3 separate regions of the Homo sapiens genome follow, and regions 1 and 3 are each linked to region 2. Evidence: fine-mapped expression QTL. A gene starts in region 2. Each other region holds a variant in brackets. All regions are shown on one strand. Distances are between the middles of the regions. Region 1 has its middle 72 kb from the start of DLEU1-AS1. Region 2 holds the start of ARL11 (ARF like GTPase 11). Region 3 overlaps RCBTB1 (RCC1 and BTB domain containing protein 1).

Region 1 (8,171 bases), 970 kb after region 2:
AGGCAACTGGTGGATGAGACAAGAGCAGTATCTGAAAAGAAGATTTACATTCCCTAATGTGCATTTGTTCAGGGAGTCATTTGATAAACTTACCGAGGACCTCTTATGTTCTAGGTAAGAGGTGGAGGACACAAAGATCACTGAGATACTGTGGCTCCTGCTCCCGGCTTCTACTCGTGGGACAGTCAGCCACTTAAGTGAACATAAGATGAGCAAAGGGTGCCTGGGGCCATCACACTGAGCAAAGAGCCATCGGGGCCATCACATTTGCCAGGAGCACAAGGGTGGAAACTGAAAGGCTTCACTGATAGAAGTGACATGTGGGCTATGTGGCTGAGTGATGCATGCTGCCTCTTTATGTTTCAGGATATCAAGCAGTGTCTTGTCCCCTCCAAAGATGCACTTGAGGGGCTCCCCTCTGTCAAAGCGATGGGGCAGGCAGTGTGCAGGAGGAAGAAAGGCTAGACTCAGCCACAGGACCCCAAGTGTGAGCAGGGGAGCCACAGCAGTGCCCTCAGCAGAGCCTTGCTGGGAGCCTCCACCTGCAGAGGTAAAGTGCAGCTGGAGCTGAGCCCCTGGGAGGAAGGCAGACCAAGGCTTTTCTGGAAGACTCCTTGGGGCTGCTTTCAAGAGTTGCTCTGGATTAGCCTTTTCTGCCTTCTTTTTGCTTTAACAACTGTACAATCCCTGTGCTAGAAGAGCCCTCTGTGGCCATGGAAGCGCCTAAGTGCAGGATCAAAGGGTTTGCTGGTCAGGTGAAGGGACTCAACAATATGAACAAAATTAGGCGCATTTAGTTCCTTTTTGGGACTCCTAACTTTTCATTTTCATATGGCTGCGGAGGGCATGCCTAGCATATCTGTGGAACCAGGGTGCCTGTGGAGAATGGATGCATAATAAACGTTTGGACCATGGAGTGAAATAAGCCAAATAGGGCATAGCTTCATAATTAAATTCACAGATGAAACCTGATGGAGATAGGATCTGGGAACACCAGCGACAATTGAGAAACTGCCCCAGAGGGATAGAGGGGAAAGGGACTAGCTGTATAGGCAGGAAATAACAACTTGAGGTTTGACCTTGAACAATGGAAGGCTAATTCACCTGGGCTGACATAATTGAAAACACAGATATACAGCACAGAAAAGGCACATGGAAATGTAAACCGTTGATAAGAGCTTGGGGAGAGTAAGTAGCAAATTGGATTGCAGATTAAATCAGGGCAAGGTTGCAAATTACTCAACTCCAGTGAGGGGTCTGCTAGACTTACAGCCCTGCTTGGCTCCACTGTGAGCTGGTGCAGGCAAAGGAAAGGCTGGGACATCATAAGATAGGGACCCAGGGCTTCTTCCTTCACCAATGCACAGAGGAACACAGGCAAGAGCTAATAGCAGGGAGGTCACTGATTGGTGTGGGCCTGTGTCTCTCTTGGCTTAAATAAAGTGGGAAAGAACACTTTGCCTTACATGCAAGATCCTCTGGGATGAGGTGGGGTAGGGAGGCTTCAGAGAGGAGGCTGGGGAGCTGATGTAGGTGATGGGGACATAGGTCAGGAAAGGAATTTGCATTTAGAACGAAACGTGGCACATGGTGGCACTCAATTTGTGTTAACTGCCACCAACCTCAACTCGCCTCAGAGTAAATATTGGGGCCTCTCCAATGGGAGCGTGGGCCCACTAGTGATTCTAGGTTTCTCCAGGTGGTCCTGAGCTGCCATATTGTACGTGTTTTTAATGCTTTCCCAGTGCCTAGTCTTTTGCTTTTGACACGAGTTACTTTTAGAATTTTATGTATTTCATTGTCTCATAAATACAGCTTCATTCTTTTTTTTTTTTTTTTTTTTTGTAATAAGCAAGAGTATAGAGATTAAATAGGGTCTTGGGTCCACTTAAATTGCCCACAGGTCAAAACATTCTGAGAAACAACGCTGCCAGTGATTAAAAAGAGCCAATTTAGAGGCTAATTTAGTAATTTATTAATTAATTTACTAATTTCTTAAATGTATTTAGAGGCTACTTTAGTAGTTATCCTCCCTGTTAGACAGGCACAAAAAGATCCTTGGCCTCTGTCCCTTCTCTTTACCTCTCACGTTGGCTGTTGATCTGGTGGATTCTACTTCCTTCAATACCTTCACAGCTGTCCCCTTCTTACAAGTCCCACTGCCACTGGCTGTCTTCACCCCAGGAGATGCAGTGCCTTCATCCCTGCTCCCCCTCTCTCCGCCTTCCATCTGCCCACCACCATTCTCAATGTGGGCTTTGACTGGGTCATTCCCCTTCTCAGAAACTTTCAATTGCTTTTAAAAAATGTATTCTCAAATCCTGGTCCGCTGTTCCAGGCTCCCATCCCTTGCCCTTCTGCCCCTGCAGCTTCCGAATCATTCCACCTCCTGTACCTTGTGATCATTCCTCTCTACCCACACAGGCTTTCCCCATGGATATCTTTTTTCCATGCTTCCTTTTCCTCCCAGGTCTCTCCATCCCACCCCATCTCTCTCTCTCATCTCCTCACATCTAAAGCCTATTAATCTTTCAAGACTCAGCTCAAGAGCACAAAGCCTTTCTCAGTTCCTCTAGCTTGAGGCTCTCTCTCCTTGCTCTGAGCTGCCATGATATGGGCACCTGTTCCGACCATCTCACAGAGAAAAAATGGGTCAGAGTCACTGTGTTGTGTGTTAAGAGCCCATGCTTTAGAGTTCAGAGCCTGGCTCTGTCACACACTAACCATGTGACCTTGAGCAAGTAAGTTAATCTCTCTGACCTTAAGCCTCCCTGTCTGCAAAACGTGTGACACGCTTGATGAAACATGTGTGATGTGCTTGGCAAGGTGGCTGTTAATGATCAGCAATAATGCTCCTGAGCTGCATGGCACAGGGGGAGGGGCTGATATATGACAGCTATTATTATTACATACTTACTAACCAAAAATAACATATTTTAGGTTATTGTATTTGTGTTCATGCCTTGCCTTAAGCCTTATGTTGGGCATTCCTTCAAGGCATAGCTCTTGGACGACTCATCCTTGTGTCTTCTGAAACACCTACTATGTTGCCTACATCAAGTAGGTCCTCAGACAGTGTCTGTTAATGGCATCAGTGACCAAATTAACAGAAAAATTATCAATGGCACCATGTGGAATGCTCTCTTAAAGCAAGTGTCCTATCATTTGGCTCAGCCTGGCCTTTACATTTCCACTAAGGTGACTGCACATTTCAGGCATTTACATGCAGGTGGGTGGGAGCAGAAAGTATGTTGTCGACAGGTGGTAACTTCGTGGCTTTGCCCTGTTGGGGTGTACGGTGGACGAATTCACTTCTATGCTTTATTTCCTCCCTTTATTTGACTAACCTGAATCTACCCAGCAACCAACACATAGAACAGAGCCTTAGAAATGGAGGCAGGTTTCCTCTGGGTCCCCTGGGAGCTTCAAGACCACACCATTATTAACTGGCTGGAAACAATTTAGCATCTGGCTCCCAAGGGATAGAAATGTAGAGAATGGGGTGAGAGTACATCCCATCCTGTCGTTTAAACAATATTCTGGCTCAGAAAGCAAAGAATCTAAACACATTTTTCCAAGAAAAAGTGAATGTAGTAATTTTCCTTGAAAGAGCTCAATGTTTTCAGTCTTTTGATAATTAGAGATGGAGTCTAGCAGGGAAAGGTCATTTCAGAGAACAGGATCTGTCCAGCAGAATTTGGAGAGGCTTTCTTTCTGAAGTGGTCTCCCTTCCTCCTTCTCTCTTGCAGACTCATGCCCTTCTAGTACCACCCTTGGAACTTAGTTCTTGTTTTGCACCCTGGACATGC[A/G]TACTCCTGGGATGCCCAGTCTGGGCTCATCCTCCTGAGGCTGGCTCCTGTACTCTGACTCCCTCCCACTTCTCCTCTGTCTTCATTTTTACCTTGGTTTGCTCTCAAACTATGCCAGGTGCTCACCTGTTACTTGTCTCCTGCAGCATGTGTGCTTTTTTTTTTTTTTTTAATTAACCACTATTTATTAAACTTCTATAATGTATCAGGTGCTGAGGCAGTCTTTTTAAATACATGTGTTCCTTTAATCTTAAAAACAATCTGTGCAATGATTATTGATATCTTCAATACATCAAAGTAAACTGGAGCTAAGAAAATGTACCATTAAATTACTACTGTTATAAAAGCAATTTTGATAGATGGTATTATTTCTCCCAAGTTTGTGTCTCTTTCCTAGTAGAAATACTATCTATCCTCGTCCTTTGCCATATGGTTATCTGTGCCTCCCAGGTGAAGGAATGTAGTTCACCAGATTGCTGACAAGCATGTGTGCTTTGTAATAAGGCCTTCTGGTGAGACGGTTTAATTCCAAAGAGCACTTTTAGTGGAGGAAAGATTTTGGCCCCATCTGATCTACCAAGGTCCAGTACCACCCCTGGAAACTAGATATGTTCTTATGTATCTACCATTTTCTTTCAAGTCATCTGTTCTCAACCTGCTAGGAAAGAGTGAACACAAAAGCGAAACTGAGTAATTATACTGAAAATTCATATTGGGGCGCTTTTATAAAAGTGACACCACGTTTAACTATACTACTGGAGAAATGGTGTGCTTTCAGGTAAAATTATTTCCAGGGGTTTGTAGGTACAACTTGAAGATTCTAAGCCTTGGAAGAAAGAGTTAAGTCCCAAATTCACTTCCTCCACTCCTTTTGAGGCATTTCTGAAATTAAACATTTTCCCAAGTTCTGCATAAAATCAGAAAAGGTCTATTGTTACTAAAGAGGAAAAGGAGATTGCTCAGAAGTTGTTTTCCAGCCTTACACAGAGCAAAGGGCCTGGTGAGAGATGATTGTTTTGTCAGGATTCTGAAGCCTTTTTGGAATAAGACAAAAAGACAAAACAAGGTTAGGGTAGGAGGTGGCCTAAATAAAGAGGATATAATGCTAAGTAAATAGAGCTGAAAGTCAGGAACCAAATGAAACAAGGACAGTCAAAACAATCAGGGGGACTTGCTGAAACCAGCCAAACAACAACAAACAGCTAACAATATGGAAATGAGCCTTTTAGAGGAAAACTCCAAGCTATGCTACACTATCCTGACTGTCCTTTCATGACAACATGAAACTAGTATCCCAGAAAGATGTAATATATGGCATCTGAAATGGCAGGAGTTGGAGTTTCCATGGTGAAAATAGTTCACTTGTCTCAGGCTTTACTCACCAAGAACAAAATTATGCCAGTCTTGGTTTCTTATGTCAGCTGGGTCTATATCTACGATGGACCAAAGAGCTTTGTTCTTGGACTCTTTAGGCAAGTCCTTGGTGCTTATGGTTAGGGTCCCTGTGGCAGAGTCCTGGTAGAAAGGATGTCCCTCCAAATTCATATCCTATTTTTAAAGAATTTTATTGGGGACCCTGTAGATCAACATTGTGTATTTTATATTTTATTGATGAAGAGCCTGAGAGCTAGAGAGGTTATGCTGTTTTCAAGGTATTATTTGAACATCTCTTTGCATATTGCAGCAATAGAATTGCTACAATAGGTCTAGATATTGACCTAGAGTGATCAAGAACATTGTGTTAATGAATATCCATACATCTATGTATGACAACATGTCAAATGAAAAAAATAAGTTGGATATAAAATTGATTCCAACTAAGTTAAACATATATTATATCCAGAGAATAAAGACTGAAAAGAAATAACACCAAAACATTAAAAGTGGTGCTCTGTGAGAGTGGGATTACAGGAAACTATTATTTTTCTTTGTTCTCTGTTTTCCAAATTTTCCAAAGTGAATATGTGTTACTTTTTTAAATTGGAAAAATAAACATTAGCAAGTTGTAAGTTTTATAAAAGAATAAAATTGTACATAAATATTATCAACCCAAAATGGTGGAAGACAGTCAAACGAGGCTATGGAAGCTGTGTAAGAATCAGTAAAAACCAATGCCTCCCAGAGGAATAGACACAGACTATTTTCATGTATTTGTCTGAAGGTGTCCAGGCCTGCTAGGAGAGGGTTTTATTTTTTGTTTTGTTTTGTTTTATTGAGACAAGGTCTTACTCTGTCGCCCAGGCTGGAGGGCAGTGGTGCAATCTCTGCTCACTGCAACCTCCACCTCCCGAGTTCAAGCGATTCTCCTGCCTCAGCCTCCAGAGTAGGTGGGATTACAGGAGCCCACCACCACGCCCGGCTAATTTTTGTATTTTAAGTAGAGACGGGGTTTCATCATGTTGGTCAGGACTGGGCTGGTCTCGAATTCCTGACCTCAAGTGATCCACCCACCTAGGCCTCCCAAAGCCCTGGGATTACAGGTATGAGCCACTGCACCTGGCCTGGGAGAGGGTTTTAACCAGGTGATCAAGCTACTCAAATATTCTGCAAAAACAGAGACTTTAAGGCTCAAAATATAAAAGGTGAGGGAGGACAAACTCCCTGAAGATGAGGGTGGCATTGTAAGATGCCTCTATGAAGGTGCTAAGAGCTGCAGGACTTCTCTCCACTGAGAGCCAATCACAATCCCAAAAGACACAATCTCCAACATTGTAATCTCAAATGTTGAAATCCCAAAAATATCGAAATCTTAAAAATATCGTTCTGGAAAAAAATATTAAAATATTCCTTAAAATATATTTATTCACACTTTAAAGGGGAACTAACTTGAGAAACACGTAGAAACACCACAGAAAACTTCATAGGCCACTTTGCACAATAAGATACGCAATAATAACATACATATTTTTGCCAGCATAAGCACAGGTACACTAACAATAGCAGCATGGATATAACAGTTACTAGTAGATGAGCCATATTCATAAAGAAATAGGTCAAAAAGCAAAATGTGTAAATGCATATCATTATGGTTGGTAATGGCGTGTACCCAGCTTCATAACTGAGTTCATCTGAAATCAAAAGCTGAGATGGTCACCACTGCATATGCAATCGCTCAAAGAGCCAAGATCTTGAGACGTTTTATCTTTCACAAACACAGATGTACTAAAAGGATGTCTCTTCATTTACTGAGGAGATAATTAATGTAAAAACATTGTGCATGTTTTTACATGCCACACAAGTCTTACATACAAAGTCAATATTGCGATAATGCACTTTTGTAAAGTTGAATTTGCAAAATATGCATGAAACAAATTAAAACTCTAAAGTCTCTAAACATCTTTACCTCTATTGTTGGAAATTATGCAGAGATGTAATACGCTACACAGTGAATTGTAAAACATAGTGCCGATAATTTTAAAAAGTCAAAAAAAAATTAAACAAAGGAAAAGCAAAAAGAAAAAACAAAAAAGCCCTAAAAAAATTTTTAAAAGTTTGACATATGAAAAAGTATATTACAGGGATAGATTATGGGCAATTTCAAGGAGATGGTACATAGCAGCTGGCCAGCTTTCGCGATCATTACCTTTTTTGTTTGTTAGTTTTTGAGACTAAGTCTTGCTCTGTCACCCCAGCTGGAGTGCAGTGGCATGATCAAGACTCACAGCAGCCTTGAACTCCTGGGCTCAAGTGATCCTCCCACCTCAGCCTCCTGAGTAGCTGGAACTATAGGCATGTGCCACCATGCTTGGTTAATTTTTGTTTTTTATTTTTTGTAGAGACAGGGTCTTACTATGTTGCCCAGGCTGGTTTCAAACTCCCGGCGTCAAGTGATCCTCCCACCTTAGCCTCCCAAAGTGCTGGGATTACAGACATGAGCCACCACACACAGTCTGATTAACTACATTTTGAAGGCTTGCATCATGATGAGTAGCTGCTTTCTTTCTTTAGGGATATGGCTGTTCTTTGGAGAATATGTTCACATTCATTTTCTCTGTGGCACTGCTCTTTTTGAAATTCTTCTATGATTTGTTATATACCGACTTGGGCATCCCATATTGCATTTTCCCATCTTCTGTTTAGGGATTTTGATCTTTGGGTATTTCGACATTCAGGATGATGGTGTTAGGGATTATGTCTTTTGGGATTATGATCCAAACTCCCCTCCACCTCCTCAGGCACAGGGCTGGCCCCATCCATGCATCAATGGGCACTCATATCTGGTTGAGTGTAAATTAAGATGTAACTGGAGAAATCCATGTTCTGTGCCAGTTGTGATCTGCACTAGCTCTCCCTTTTCCATCTCAAGGCAATTCTGCCTGGGTTTCCTGCCTAAAGTCACATAGTCGGGAGCTAATAGAGTTG
Region 2 (8,171 bases):
CTACAGTTGACTCCTTCAGTCCCTGTGTGTGTCCTCTGCGTGCCCCTGGCCCCCTGCCTTCCCTTAGCTGTGCTGCACAGAAAACCGCCCCAGCTCTTGGGTCAAACAGATCCCATAAGAAACATCAGAAGAAGCATCCTGGCTTACAAGTTATTTTTTGGTGAGTGCAATGGGCGTGCCGTGCTCCTCCAGGCCTGACCACCTGTATGAGAGTTGGCAGGAGGACATTTCTAAACTCACACTCTTAGGGCAGTAGAGATGGGGCCTAAGACCTTTGTCTCTCCTGGTATCAGTGAGCCCCGTGTAGCCCCTTTTCCTTATTCCAGGTCTGGAAGCTGCAGTCACAGACACACAAAGGTGCTGGGGCTTGCACATTCACCAGCGTCACTTTCTCCAGCCACACCACTACGTTTGAGGGCTCTCCTGTCCTTCTCTAACAGAACTAGTCTGGGACTAGACGCCAGGCTTTGGGCTAAGTACTTGATGTGTCTTCACTTATTAAATCCTTCCAATAACCCTTCAAGTTAGGTACCATTATTATCGTCATCAACCTCATTTTATAGAGAAGGAAACTGAGGTGCAGAGAAATTCAGGTTGAGGTTCACAGCAAATAAGCAGTGGAGGCCAAGTGTGCCCCCAGGTGGACCCAAATCAAAGCCACACTGTTACCTTCTGCTCTGCGCTGCCTCCCGGGGCAGTAGCCCTCGTGAGCCTCCCCACGTTGGGGTGTCTAATGAAAAGCTTCCCTGCTGGTTGAGCTGAAGGGGTCAGGGTCGGGGCTGTACAGAGAAACTCAGGCCACAAGGGCCTTTGGGCAGAACTGGGGTCACAAAGTAATCATGGTTTCCCAGCGAACACAAGACTTTGGCCCTCAGGCAAGGCTCCTTGATGTCTGGGGGAGCCTGTGCCCCCCAGCAGTGCTCACAGATCCACCCCTGACTGCCAGCCGGCCCCTTGATGGCGGTGCCTGTCTCAGATTCTGTGGTCAGTGCCACGCAGCTACCTCCAGAGGCAGCCTGCAGCCTGGCCATGTGGCCCCAAGCTCCAGGCTAGAGGCCAAGGGGAGTGTCCCTTCTCTCTCTGTGTCACCCAGGGCATAGGTCACCCAGGCAGCCTGGCATGGTGCCTCCAAGCCACTGTGCTAATGCTTCTACAGCTTCTGCTCCCTCCCTGCCTCCATGGGGCCCAAACCTAGCCCTGGTGCTGCTCTGGGAACTGGGTCAGAGCAGCACCCCAGCTCCCCCACCCCCAGGAGCCCCTCAACCTTGGCCTGCTGTCATCCTCGTCCGGCCCCAATCTTCCTGCAAATCGGGCCCTTGCAGGATTCCTGCTGACTCAGCAGCTGGGCCCGGACAGGACTTAGTCCCAGCGTGAGCCGATCCCGCTGCAGTTTGGGCGAGAATGACAAGCCCTCCACCAGACGATTCTTTATTGCTCTGAGACTTCCCTGGGATAATTCCACCCCCAGGAGCACTCTATCTGTTTCTGTCTCCTCCCCACACACCCCCTGGCCTTGAAAAAGGATGATCACTGACCACAGGCACTGAAAAGAGCAAACCAAGAGCAGCATCAATACCCTCACACAGTGGTGCACATAACACACTTTGAGTTTCTGACTTTTCCTAATCAGTTCTTCCTGCTAAAATACAGTAGCTTAACAAAAACAATGACAACAACAATCTGGTGTTTGCCATTTACAAGGCACTTTCTGTGTGAGTAGCATGACATGGTAAAAGAGAAAGAGATGAATTATAAAACGCAGCAAGATCATGAGTCAATGATTCACCCTGTCCCAGCCTGCTTCTTTTTTTTTTTTTTTGAGACAGAGTCTTGCTCTGTCACCAGGCTGGAGTGCAGTGGCGCGATCTCAGCTCACTGCAACCTCCGCCTTCCGGGTTCAAGCGATTCTCCTGCCTCAGCCACCCGAGTAGCTGGGACTACAAGTGTGCGCCACCATGCCCAGCTAATTTTTGTATTTTTAGTAGAGATGGGGTTTCACCATGTTGGCCAGGATGGTCTCGATTTCTTGACCTTGTGATCTGCCCGCCTCGGCCTTCCAACCGAGCCTGCTTCTTTTCTTGTAAAATGGAAGAGTCATAACATCCAACTTGAGTCTTGATATTTTAATGAAATAATGCATGGGAAAGCAGAAAACAGCACAAAGATTACTGGTTATAAGAGCTAAATCACTGTGACTCCATATCCAAATTCAATACCTACTGAATCAGTGGTTTCTGACTAGTCAATTTTTTTTCTTTTTTTCTTTTTTTTTTTGAGACAGAGTCTCGGCTGGGTGCAGTGGCTCACACCTGTAATCCCAGCTCTTTGGGAGGCCGAGGCGGGCAGATCACTCGAGATTAGAAGCTGGAGACCAGCCTGGCCAACATGGCAAAACCCTGTCTCTACTGAAAATAAAAAAATTATCCAGGCATGGTAGCACGTGCCTGTAATCCCAGGTACTCGGGAGGCTGAGGTGGGAGAATTGCTTGAACCTAGGAGGCGGAGGTTGCAGTGAGCCGAGATTGTGCCATTGCACTCCAGCCTGGGCGCCAGAGCGAGACTCCATCTCAATTAAAAAAAAAAAATAGGAGAGAGACAGAGTCTCACTCTGTCTTCTAGGCTGGAGTGCAGTGCTGTGATCTCAGCTCACTGCAGCCTCCACCTCCTGGGCTCATGCAGTTCTTGGGCCTCAATCTCCCAAGTACCTGGAACTACAGGCACACATCACCATGCCTGGTTAATTTATTATTTTTTGTAGAGACGTGGTTTCACCATATTGGCCAGGCTGGTCTTGAACTCCTGAGCTTGAGCGATCCTCCTGCCTTGGCCTCCCAAAGTGCTGGGATTACAGGCATGAGCCCCCATGCCCGGCGACTAGCCAATTTTTTAAAAATTACATTTTCTAGAGGTGTCATTTTTACTGGGAAAAACACAGTGACACCATTCAAGAAAAAATTGAACGGTAACTTTAATCACTACATTAACACAATTTTAAAGGTTGATCTGCATCATACATACCTTTTAAAGAATGTTTTCATCATATGTAGACAGCTTTTTTTGTTTTTTGTTTTTGTTTTTGTTTTGAGGCAGAGTCTCGCTCTGTCACCAAGGCTGGAGTGCAGTGGTGTGATCTGGGCTCACTGCAACCTCCGCCTCCCGGGTTCATGCCATTCTCCTGCCTCAGCCTCCCAAATAGCTGGGCCTACAGGTAGGTGCCACCACGCCCAGCTAATTTTTGTATTTTTAGTAGAGACGGGGTTTCACCATGTTAGCCAGGCTGGTCTCGAACTCCTGACCTCGTGATCCACCCACCTCAGCCCCCCAAAATGTTGGGATTACAGGCCTGAGCCACCACGCCTGGCCATAGGCAGCTTTTAAAAGAACACATGTGCAGCCTGGCCATCATGGTGAAACCTGTCTTTATGAAAAATACAAAAATCAGCTGGGCATGGTGGCACCTGCCTATAATCCCACTTGCTTAGGAGGTTGAGGAGGGAGGATCGCTTGAGCCCTGGAGGCGGAGGCTGCTGTCCAGCCTGGGCGACAGAGCAAGACTCGGTCTCAAATAGAAAACAAAACAAAACAACAACAACAACAACAACAAACCATGTGTGATTCCAAGCAAATCAGAGAATCTCTAGCCACCAGAAAAACCTTGAGGCATGTACTGAAAGGAAGAGGTCAGAATTCTCTGCGAGGAGCTCAGAGGATCCTGAGGGAAGAGAGAAGGCGGCTGCGCTTGGACACAGCTCCGAGCTCGTGCTCCCTCCTTCAGGCACCCAAGTCTGAGTTGCTAAAAAATGGAGCTGTCACTGGGCCTTGCTCTGCCAGGACCTGCAGAGCCGGGGACCTCTCTGTGGCAAGCCCAGCAAGATGACTGCTCTGAGGCGCCCTAGGGCTGAGGGAGGGGCCGTGACACCAGCCCCGCCCCCCAGCCACCTGGGAAAAGGAAGCACAAAAAGGAGAAGCAGCAACGGCTGCTCTGCTTCCTTCCCATCTCGCTCTTGGGTCATGCCTGGCCAGCAGAAAGCAGCTCCATAGGGGAGGAGAGCCACGCAGGATCTCACAGCTGCAGTCTAATAGTAACACAGAGGTAATTTTAACTTTTTACTTTTCTACCCTTGGGAGTAGGGATGAGTAGAGGCTTACCTCCTTCCAGAGGCAGCTCATATCCCCCCACCCCCATTCCCGGAAGTTGAGATGTCTCTTCTCTGTTCCACGCAGGCATCGTCTAAGTTGGGAACAGGTCTTATGTCTTAAAATTTGGGATTCTTTAAAAACATATGTGGCTGGGCACAGTGGCTCACGCCTGTAATCCCAGCACTTTGGGAGGCCGGGCAGGTGGATAATTTGAGGTCAGGAGTTCAATACCAGCCAGGCCAACATGGTGAAACCTCGTCTCTAATATAAATACAAAAAGTAGCTGGGTGGTAGTAGTAGCTGTAATCCCAGGTACTCGGGAGGCTGAGGCAGGAGAATCCCTTGAACCTAGGAGGCGGAGGTTGCAGGGAGGCAGAGGTTGTGATGAGCCAAGATTGCACCACTGCACTCCAGTCTGGGTGACACAGTGAGACCCTGTCTCAAAACAACAACAAAAATGTGTGATGGCACATGCCCATAGTCCCAGCTACTGGGGAGGCTGAGGTGGGAGGATGGCTTGAGCCTGGGAAGTCGAGGCTGCAGTGAGCTGTGATCATGCCACTGCAGTCCAGCCTGGGCGACAGAGTGAGACCCTGTCTCAAAACAAAACAAAACAAAACAAAACAAAAAAACCCAAAAACAAACAAAAAAGCACATGTGGAGTGTTGTAGAAGTCATTGACCTTGGTAAGACAGTGGAGGAAACTGCTTTGCTCTGACTCATAAATTTGCCCCCAGTAAACAGTATTTATAAATAGCCCCAGTCAGGCACTGCATGAAGACATTTCAGTCAACGACAGACCACATATACAACGGTGGTCCCATAAGATTATAACAGAGCTGAAAAATTCCTATTTTTCAGCTTAGTGTTGTGGTGCAACCACTACCTTTTCTATGTTTAGATACACGAATACTTAGCACTGTGTTACAATAGCCTACAGTACCCATTACAGGAATGCTGTACCGGTGTGTAGCCCAGGAGCAATGGGCCATACCATATAGCCTAGGTGTGGAGTAGACTAGACCATCCACGTTTGTGTAATTACAATCTATGATTTTGTAAAATGATGAAATTGCCTAATGAAGCATTTCTCAGAATGTGTCCCCGTCATTAAGTGACACCTCACTGTGTTTCCAAGACATAGTACTGGTCCTTGGGAAGCTCTAAAGAGAGGTCACCGTGAGCTGAACCATCCTTCTCACTCTGTGCATGGAACCCAGCTTAGCTTCCATTTCAGCATTTAGGCTTATAGGAGGAGAAGAGGTTAGAAGCCACAGACCAGCAAGAATTGAAGACATCGTTCTGTAATTTCTACTGAACCAGCTCTGTCTGACTGGAACTTCATTTTGCCTCTTTGCTTTAACTCCTCAGGAATGTCTTCCAGGAGGCCCCTGATCTTCTCTGCTCAGGGACCACTCTTATCTGACCCAGAGACAGGTTAGCTGATGGTGACTCACACATCCTCACTTCCTTCAAAGCCCAGGCATCTGTTTAAAATCTGACCCTGTGAAGACTTTTCCTGTTTTGGAAAAACTCTTCCGTTGTTTGCCTGCACAGATTTGTGCTCCATTTTTAATTTCAATTTTTGTAGAGAAGGCGGGTCCTTGCTTTGTTGCCTCGGCTTGTTTGAAACTCCTGGGCTCAAGTGATCCTCCTGCCTTGGCCTCCCACAGTGCTGGGATTACAGGTGTGAGCCACTGCACCAGGATGGATTTGTCTTCCTTCAGAAGACAGTAGCTGATGTGTGCCCTGGCCTTTCTCCCCTAGGATTCAGCAGTGGCCACCATGGGTTCTGTGAATTCCAGAGGTCACAAGGCGGAAGCCCAGGTGGTGATGATGGGCCTGGACTCGGCGGGCAAGACCACGCTCCTTTACAAGCTGAAGGGCCACCAGCTGGTGGAGACCCTGCCCACTGTTGGTTTCAACGTGGAGCCTCTGAAAGCTCCTGGGCACGTGTCACTGACTCTCTGGGACGTTGGGGGGCAGGCCCCGCTCAGAGCCAGCTGGAAGGACTATCTGGAAGGCACAGATATCCTCGTGTACGTGCTGGACAGCACAGATGAAGCCCGCTTACCCGAGTCGGCGGCTGAGCTCACAGAAGTCCTGAACGACCCCAACATGGCTGGCGTCCCCTTCTTGGTGCTGGCCAACAAGCAGGAGGCACCTGATGCACTTCCGCTGCTTAAGATCAGAAACAGGCTGAGTCTAGAGAGATTCCAGGACCACTGCTGGGAGCTCCGGGGCTGCAGTGCCCTCACTGGGGAGGGGCTGCCCGAGGCCCTGCAGAGCCTGTGGAGCCTCCTGAAATCTCGCAGCTGCATGTGTCTGCAGGCGAGAGCCCATGGGGCTGAGCGCGGAGACAGCAAGAGATCTTGATCCAGACAGAGCAGCATATCTTTGCTCATACAAACTAGAAGAACCAGCTGATCCTTGAGAAATTTACGCTTAGTCTATCAAACAAGAAATGCTGGCTTGGCCCGGTGGCTCATGCCTGTAATCCCAGCACTGTGGGAGACCACGGTGGGGGAATCCCTTGAGCCCAGGAGTTGGAGAGCAACATCACAACACCCCATTTCTACTAATAATCAAAAAATTGGCCGGGCATGGTGGCATGTGCCTGTAGTCCCAGCTACTTGGGAGGCTGAGGCAGGAGAATCGCTTGAGCCCAAGAGGTAGAGGTTGCAGTGAGCCAAGATCGCGCCACTGCACTCCAGTCTGGGCAACAGAGTGAGACCCTGTCTCAATAATAATAATAATAATAATGATGATACTCTAAGAAAAAAATCTCAACATACTTCATTTAATAGCTCGTTACCAAGTGTGAATGAAGCAATATGTCATAATAGAGTAGCCACTGGTTGCATAATAATAGAGACCTAAATTCTCAAATAGGGAAAGAGGTTTTAAAATCAAATTTGAGGCCAGGTGCAGTGGCTCATGGGCGGAGGAGGGCAGATTACTTGAGGCTAGGAGTTCAAGACCAGCCTGGCCAACATGGTGAAACCCCATCTCTACTGAAAATACAAAAATTAGGCATAGTGGTGCACGCCTGCAGTCCCAGCTACTCAGGAGGTTGAGGCAGAAGAATCGCTTGAACCCAGGAAGTGGAGGTTGCAGTGAGCCGAGATTGTGCTGCTGCACTCCAGCCTGGGTGAAAAAGACAGGCTGTGTCTCCAAAAAGAAAAAAAAAAGTCAAATTCAAATATCATCTGGACATGTCACAATGGATCGCGGATCCTTATGAGTGATTTTCCCCAGTGGCCCCTGGGGATGTGCCACTGTCACTCAGAAGGGCAAGCTAGGCAGGGCCCATACAACAGCAGGGGTCTGCAGGTTAGACGTTCCCTGCCCTGGGACGCTCACCCCTGGGCAAGAGGCTGGAAGTTCACACCATCCAAAATTTATCCTTGTTTTTTTTCTGATGCTAATTAGCCTCTCCCGATTTTATGACATCTTGTGTTGATCTTTTTCAAAAACTCATTTTCTTTTTTTTCCTTCTCTTTTCTCCTTCTTGTAGCACATATCTTTCGTTAAAGATCAGATCAATAAAATATTTTATTTATTCATTAATTTAACAAAAAAAACAGAGCATTTAGTTTGTGGCAAAAACACTGAGCTTTCGAATATGAATCATGTGCTTTAGGTGGGAATTGTGAATTCTGAAGATACAGATGACAGTGACGAATGCCTTCTGTCTCATGATTGACAGGGAAAAGGAAGGTTGACCATAGCATCCTAGAAGGCTCATCAGGTGATCATTACCTAGCATCCATGAAGCACCTGAAATTATTTGCAAAATGTTACGCTTTGGACCATTTTTCCGGGGAAGGAGATCCAGAACTTTTTACCAGATTTTCAAAGACATCTGTGACTCCCAAAAGTTAACAATCACTGATGTGGTTGTTGTATCCCTCATCCAACCCCAGAACACTTTCTGTAATCTGAGTTTTTTAATGGCAAGTGGCCTATATTTAGCACCTGTTCTCATGTTAAACAGCTCTGAATGTTAGATATTCTTTCTTATCCTGGAC
Region 3 (8,171 bases), 47 kb before region 2:
AAGGTTATTTTACTTTATACTCTGAAAGCAAATTCAGTCAGGACAAACACAGGCCTTCCAATTTTAGAAATCTACATTTAGAACTGGAAGGCTGAAGGAGTAATGTAGCAACTAATCTTTTAATTCCCCTAAGAGCACATTTATTTTACTTTCCCCAAGGAACAAATATTAAGGAAAGGCTAATTTTATTTTAGTTTATTTTACTGATCTAGCAAAAATATATTTCAACATGCTTATGGAGATTTTAAAAACAACAGGAAATGGAGAGAAATGGTACAGGAAAACTGGTTTTGATGAAATAATGTTCTCAATATTAAACAACAGTGGAAATTTAGGGTTGATCTGTAAGCACATGGCTTCCACACAGACCTCAACTAACCAGAATGTATTTGTTTGGGCTAGTTTAAATTGCTGTTATGTACTGGCTTTTAAATGCCACCAATAGGGTATTCTACCTTTAGATCTGGCTTCTACTGACCTTAGAGCTAAGGAAAAGAGTGGGAAAAGAGTAAGCAATCCTTCAGCATTGGCGAGCACCAAGATTCTGACGCTTCTGGTGTCATTTTAGAAGCATGAAATGAGTTTGTGTCATTCTTTATTATGGAAGCCGATAGCCAGAGGAAACTGGAAGGGCTCTGAATGTTGGAACAATCATTTTAAGTAGCCTAAACATTCTTCAGCATACAAGCTACAGCAAGCTTTAAACTACTCAAAACAGCAACTTCTAATATGCAAAATGATATTTTTAATTGCAAAAACTTTGAATTAAAGCATTTACACATACACTGAAAATTCCTAATAGAGGTTTCTCTATTTTTGTAAACTGAATGGGTGATGATTTTATTTATCAGTTTAAGTTGCTAAGCTGTCTTACGAAAAAAATTTATTTATAGTTAATGAGCTAGTGATAAAATCTAAAGGGCCTTGGAAAAAAGTACTATTGTATGCTAATGTGAACAAAATCCAGTTGTCCCTCAGTATCTGTGGGGGACCGGTTCCAGGATCTCCTGCAGATACTAAAATCCACAGATGCTCAAGTCCCTGATAGAAAATGGCATAGTATTTGCACATAACCTACACACATCCTCCCATATACTTTAAATGATCTCCAGATTACTTATAATACCTAATACAATGTAAATGCTTGGTAAATAGTTGTTAACGTTTATTGCTTGGGGAATAATGACAAGAAAAAATACTCTACATGTTCAGTACAAATGCAATTTTTAATATTTGCAATTTGAGGCTGGTTGAATCCACAGATGTGGAATCCATGGATACAGAGAGCTGACTTTAATAGCATACATTAATTCTTCTTCTGCAATGACCCCAGATACCAACAATGCCAGGGACATCATAAAGAATACAATCATGGTCTCTGCCTCTGAGGAACTGAAGGTCTAATGGAAAGTCAGATCCTAAGTAAGTGGAAAACTAGAATGCAAATACAACTGGAATAATTAAGGAAATGAATGTATCATGCAAGTATATGGTCCATGTGACACATGTTAATATGTCAAATAGGAAATAATTATGTGCAAACTAGTGACAACTATATAAAAATTGTATATAACAGAAAACAATTACACGAAATCCCAGAAACCAAATTCTCCATATTCCAGCAGATGATAAAATGTGAGCCTTTCCTCAGTGAAGATCATCCAGTTTCCTAGAAGAACAAAGTGTTCTTCATAGCCTTCTTCCTTTTTTAGCAATAAATGTTCCATTTGAGCACAAAAGATTGAAGGGTATGACAATCTTTATTTCTGAATCCATTTAATTCCAGAAAAACATTCAAATAAGAGAGCTCTACGGTTTGGGGTAAACTTTGGTATACAACATTACAACTTAATGTCTTCCATCTATGCTACAGCAAAAGCAATTCAAAAACCCTCTCAAGGTACAAACAGCCAAATGTTACTCTTACCAATTTCTTACATATAATTCTGATGGGCTTTTTGAGACTGAGCAAATGCTGTCTCATTGAGATACCAAATGTATTTCCCAGGTCCAGATAAGCCTCTAAGAATCAGCCTCAAACATTTTTAAATAAAAATAAAACTTAAAACCATTTCACCCACTCTATGGTATAAGGGCTGCAAATCACAGGCAAAGTTTCGAAGATGTGCTGAGACACTAATATGTTATTGCCCCAGCTGCTAGAACAGCTGTCATCCACGTCTCTCTTCTGCAAACACACAGTACTACAAGAATGAAAGGGAGGCCGGGCGTGGTGGCTCACACCTGTAATCCCAGCACTTTGGGAGGCCGAGGCAGGCGGATCACGAGGTCAGGAGATCAAGACCATCCTGGCTAACACAGCGAAACCCCGTCTCTACTAAAAATACAAAAAAATTAGCCGGGCCTGGTAGTGGGCGCCTGTAGTCCCAGCTACTCTGGAGGCTGAGGCAGGAGAATGGCGTGAGCCCAGGAGGCACAGCTTGCAGTGAACCGAGATGGTGCCACTGCACTCCAGTTTGGGTGACAGATCGAGACTTGTCTCAGAAAAAAAAAAAAAAAGAATGAAAGGGAAAGGAAGAATGCCCTGAATGCTTGACTAAGGAGTCTGAGAATGTAGCCTTCTCCCAAAGTAGTTTGTCATCCTTCAAGCTGAAGCCACCTGTACAGGTGAGTGAAGATAATACCCCCACCTTCATTTAGAGAACAGTATGACTAGTGTTTTAGAATTCTCTGATTGTGCCTACCCTTTGTTTCATAAGTTTTGTTCAAATTCATCACTAATTTTAGAGGAAAATGTAAGTTCCTACAACTGTCATTTCCCAACCACTAATAAGTTATTTGACTTGAAGCACAATTTGCAATAATGGCCTCTGTAAGCATTTCTTTAGCCCCATCATCCAAGGGGCTGCTTTCATCTCATTCATTTCATCTCGTCTCACTTCTAACCTCAGCCATGTGCTCGAAAAGCAAACGAACCAAGTGGCAATAGCATTAGCAGTGAAAAAAATAACATATCTAGGGTTGTGCAGCTGACTGAGATCTTATAAAAGTATTGCTTTTATAGGATACTGTTGTTTTCAAAAGGAAACCAGAAAAGAAATATCGATGATTAGAAATAATGTTTTTTCTGTAAGTTTGTTCTTTGTTAAACCAAACAAACAGGTGTCACAAAACAGAACAAAAAAACCAATGATGGGTCAAAGTTTAAAGAAATGGATAGATGGCTGGGTGAAGTGGCTCACACCTGTAATCCCAGCATTTTAGGAGGCGAAGGCAGGAGGATCACTTGAACCCAGGAGTTCAAGACCAGCCTGGGCAACATGGCGAGACTCCATTTCCTTAAAAATAAAAAGATTAGCCAGTCATAATGGTGTGCGCCTGTAGTTAGTCCCAGCTACTCAAGAGGCTGAGGTGGGAGGATCACCTGAGTCCAGGAGGTTGAGGCTGCAGTGAGCCGTGTTCACACCACTGTATTCCAGTCTGGGCAAGAGAGCAAGATCCTGTCTGAAAAAGAAAAAAGAAATGGATAAAACATAATACTTCATTTTATTTTCCAAATGAATTCAAGGCTGGAATTGGTGGGTCAAATTCAAATCTAAATATGGTTTCATGAATCTTTCTCATGTGGATACCCCAAAAGTGATTTCATCTATTAGTCCCCAGTTGTATGAAAAGTATCAACTGTACCCTGCAATGACCTAAAGCCAAACTGAAATTCCAGCAATGGACTGGCAGAACCATACACTATTAATTCAATAAATTTTCTTAGGTAAACAGGACACAGAGCCAACACCAACAGAAATTACATGGGGTTGGGGGATCTAGACACATAAACAGATGCTCACAACAGTGTGGCTGGTCAGATGCTGTGGAGGCAACAGAATTGGGAAGTATGCTTCAGCTACCTAAAGAGAAGCAGGCGCCTGCAACAGTGAGCACTCATGCCAGGTAAGGCTCTGGTGGAGGAACTGAAAGAAAGTCAGCATGGCTGCAGCCAAACAACTCAGGCTTTATCCTAAGAGCACCAGGTAATCCCTGAAGGGTCTTAAGCAGGGAAGTGGCATAAACAGATGTAGGTCTATGAAAGATTACTTTGGCTGACCACAGAGACATGAGACGACAAAGGAGTGCTTAGAGGAAGTCCAGATGGCTATGGTAAGCCAGAAAAGAAGGGATTGAAGCCCACACTAGGGAAATGGAGAAAATTGAACAAGAAGGAAAATCAAGAAGATTCTGCAACTGGCTGAATGGGACAAGGAGCACTGGA[T/C]AAGCAGAAAGGCAGAGCCGAAGATCACAGGCAGACGCTGAGCTTGAGTGAGAGAGAACTGTGCTGCCACTCACTACAGCAGAAAGCACAGCAGGCCTCAGGGGTGATGAGTCCTACTATGGACATTTGTGCCAGGTACCTGTGGGATATTAAAGTGGACAAGTCCCAACAGATGGATTTAGAAATCTGAAGCTCAAGAAAGGTCTGGATTGGAGATTTGGAAATCTGGCATGAAATCACCCAGGAAAAAAGCAAGTGAAATAAGGAGAGCAGAGTACCTTAAGAAGAACTCTAAGAAACTCCAACGGGAAAGGGACAGGGAGTACCCCCTAGAAGGGACTGTGAAGGAAGAGGTAGACCAGGAGGAAAACCAGGAGACAGAGTGTCACAGAGATCTGGGGACTTGAGCATCACAGGCAAGAGGCATGCTAGTGTCGAATGCTGCTGAGACACCAAACGAGGGAAGGGTGGAGAAACTTCCATTGGATTTAACAAGGAGAATTATCAGTGACCTTAACAAGAACAGTTTCACTGAGGTTGTGGGTGGAAGAGGCCAGGTTGCAGCAGGTTGAGGCGTATGTGAAAGGTGAAGAAAAGGAAACCATGAGTATAAACAACTTGTTCAAGAAATTTCACTCTGAAGGAAAAATGAGAAATCGCATAGTAATCACAGAATGTGATAGAGTTGCAGGACGTTTTCTGTTAACCTTTTTAATGTAAACATTGTTAGAGGCTTGAACATGTTTGAATTAATGGGAAGGAGCCAGTAGAAACATCAAAGAGGAGAGGATGTAACAACTCAATGGGCCTTAAGAAAGTAGCAGGGAATGGGATCTGAAGCAGAAGTGCAACAGAAGCGCCGGGCGCAGTGGCTCATGCCTGTAATCCCAGCACTTTGGGAGGCCGAGGCAGGTGGATCATCTGATGTCAGGAGTTCGAGACCGGCCTGGCCAACATGGTGAAACCCCATCTCTATTAAAAATACAAAAATTAGCTGGGCATAGTGGTGGGTGCCTGTAATCGCAGCTACTCAGGACCCTGAGGCAGGAGAATCGCTTGAACTCGGGAGACGGAGGTTGCAGTGAGCCAAGATCACACCACTGCACTCCAGCCTGGGCAACAAAAGCAAAATTCTGTCTCTAAATAAATAAATAAATAAATAAATGCAAGAGAAACTGTAGAAAGGAGCAAGTCTTCCTTTTCTTCCTTCCACAAGAGGAGGAGGAAAGGGTGAATGTGAATGAAAGCCAGTTTAAAGGTTAGGAATCCAGATGCTGGAGACATACTCATTCTCTCATTCTCATTCTCTCTCCCCGCTGAGTCTCCATTTTACATGCCCACCGGCAATGTACAACAGTGCTGCTTTCTCCAGTATTTACTGTCTTTTGTATTATACCCATCCTAGTGGATGGGAGGTGGTATCTCATGGTTTTGATTGGCATTTGGAGACCATTCTCTTCTGAGGTCACCTATTTTTCCCCTATGAAGAAAGAGTTAGGCTTTTTGCTAAGAGTAAGAGGGGAGGTAGCAATAAACAGTGGAGTGGAGGCCGGGTGTGGTTGCTCACGCCTGTAATCCCAACATTTTGGGAGGCCAAGGCGGGAGGACTGCTTGAGGCTAGGTGTTCAAGACCAGCCTGGGCAACATAGGGAGACCCTGTCTCTACAAAAAATAAAAAAATTAGTCGAATGTGGTGGTGCGCACCTGTGGTCCCAGCTACTTGGGAGTGGGGAGGATCACTTGAGCCTGGGAGTTTGAGGCTGCAGTGAGCTATGATCACATGGCACACTGTACTCCAGACTGGGCGACATAGTGAGACCCTGTCTCAAAAAGAAAAAAGTGGAGTGGAGCAATTGGGGGTAAAATGGTGAAGTCTGAAGCAGTCACCAGGGAGGATGGGAAAGAGCACTGAGCAGAGAAACCTAGCAGGATGGTAAGACCAAGCCCAGAGAAAGCTGGAGACCGTAAGTCTTTAGAGGTACCCATCTGGTCTCCTCTGTGAGCTTTTCTACCCCAGGAAAGAAGTGTGCTTTTGTGTATGTGTGTGTGTGTGTGTGTGTGTGTGTTTTAAATGTGATCTAACACACAGTTGACTTATATAATTATTTCATTAACTGATCTCCTCTACTAAGTCTATTCTGGCTAAATTCAGACAACACTCATCATACCCCTCTTGTGCATTCTTCAGCACGTACACAACATGTACTTTTTTTTTTTGAGATGGAGTCTCACTGTGTCGCCCAGGCTGGAGTGCAGTGGCACAATCTCGGCTCACTGCAACCTCTGCCTCCCCAGGTCAGGTAATTCTCGTACCTCAGCCTCCTGAGTAGCTGGGACTACAGGCGCACACCACCACGCCCAGCTAATTTTTTGTATTTTTAGTAGAGACGGGGTTTCACCATGTTGGCCAAGCTGGTCTTGAACTCCTGGCCTCGTGTAATCTGTCGCCTCAATCTCCCAAAATGCTGGGATTACAGATGTAAGCCACTGCGCCTGGCCAATATGTAACATTTTTAACTTTTTGTAAAACCAGAGAATATTTTGAAATGTGTCCGAATGCCCTGCCTAGATTCTAGACTCTGTGAGGCCCCAGCCTCCTTTCCTATGCATGACTTACTGTTTAATGTAGTACACACAGAAGGGATATCATCATCATAATAAAGGTCCTCACTTTCCTTCACAGTTTCATCTACCCCACAATGACTCCCAGGAAAAGGAGGGTACTGTTTCAGACTTCCCAGCTCCCGTATATTAGGTGGAGCCAAGTTCTTGCTGCAGCATACGGGCACGCTTTAAAATTTTCAAATCATTTTTTAAAAGCTACAAGCTTGACAGCTTTGGGTTTTTATGGCTACTTGTTTTCTGAAGTTCACAGAACTTTATCATTTGGATCACACACTTAAAAAAATCACTTGCAAAAATCTCTTTAAAGATGAATATGCTTCCTCTTCAAGAGAAACAGACTAGCGGGTAGAAGAAAAAGGACCCGTCTAGAGTATTAATAAATAGACTGATATTCACACAATGGATTAAATGGATTAAAGTCCATCCCACAGATGAACTGTTATATTAATAGAATCCAAATATACAGTTACATCCTCGACCCTGAAAGCAGTTTAAACGGGTGAAATTCACCCAGTGCTCACTTGAAATGAGTACTCTAAAGTTTAAAGCACCTATAAACTGCCCTCAGGATTCAATCATTTTTCCATTCCTTCCGGCATTATATACTTTGATGTTTTAATGTTATTAGCCCACAATACACACCAGTTTCAGAAACTCAGTTTTTGTCCTCTAAGGGCTTTTAGTCCTCCCAAAAAAAGAATAGGGCAAAAGCAAGGAAGATCATGAATCTGGTTTTCTAAAAGCATTATTACAAGACTGCTTTATAAAATTGTAATCCCCAGCTGCAGAGTTCCGCAGATGGCTTGAAAGTGTCTTACATGCAAATAAATAAAAACAAAAGGCCACTTATGCGAGCAGAACACAGCGTGCTCGATAGTCATCTTAAACCGAGCAGGTAGGTACTTTATCAGAGGCAGACAAGGGAAACGTCACTTATTTAGAGTTCACCGCACGCCTGGATAAAAGTCCTCACTAACAAAATCCCTGCCTTTGTGGATTCTGTGTCGGAAAGGGAAACGATAAAGAATACGGTTTGTGACAGCACTACTCTCAGGAGACGAAGGAGAGATGCTAAGATCTTGGAAAGGAGAGAGAATAGGAAGAGTCGGAGGGGAGATCTCCTCTCAGTAAAACGGCACCCACAGCAGTCAGACTTCAGCTACGAGCAAAATCGAGTCCGTGCACCTCAAAAAAGAGAGGGAGGCAGGGAAAACTTTCCCTCGCCTCTCCCCATCCTTCCCTCCTCCTCGCAGGAGAGCACATTAGCTGAGGTGCTGGCGGGGCCGGGCCGGGGACCCCATCCCTCGCCCCGGACGCA

Evidence for each region. PIP is the estimated chance that this variant, and not a neighbour inherited with it, causes the effect.
Region 1: its variant is fine-mapped to the expression of ARL11 in whole blood (TOPMed, PIP 0.99).
Region 3: its variant is fine-mapped to the expression of ARL11 in whole blood (INTERVAL, PIP 0.98).

The regions. Positions count from the first base shown.
Region 1 is chr13:50,595,848-50,604,018 of GRCh38, forward strand. No RefSeq gene overlaps it. Among named protein-coding and RNA genes, the nearest start is that of DLEU1-AS1, 72 kb to the left of the region's middle. The variant A/G (reference allele first, on the strand shown) is at 3,810.
Region 2 is chr13:49,624,523-49,632,693 of GRCh38, forward strand. It overlaps ARL11 (ARF like GTPase 11), which reads left to right and starts at 3,985. Exons shown (of 2, transcript NM_138450.6): 1 at 3,985-4,093; 2 at 5,908-8,171. The coding sequence starts at 5,926. The coding sequence ends at 6,516. RefSeq lists an enhancer at 4,237-4,286.
Region 3 is chr13:49,577,120-49,585,290 of GRCh38, forward strand. It overlaps RCBTB1 (RCC1 and BTB domain containing protein 1), which reads right to left. Exons shown (of 13, transcript NM_018191.4): 2 at 3,386-3,465. Among named protein-coding and RNA genes, the nearest start is that of RCBTB1, 4.4 kb to the right of the region's middle. RefSeq lists a silencer at 7,963-8,171. The variant T/C (reference allele first, on the strand shown) is at 4,229.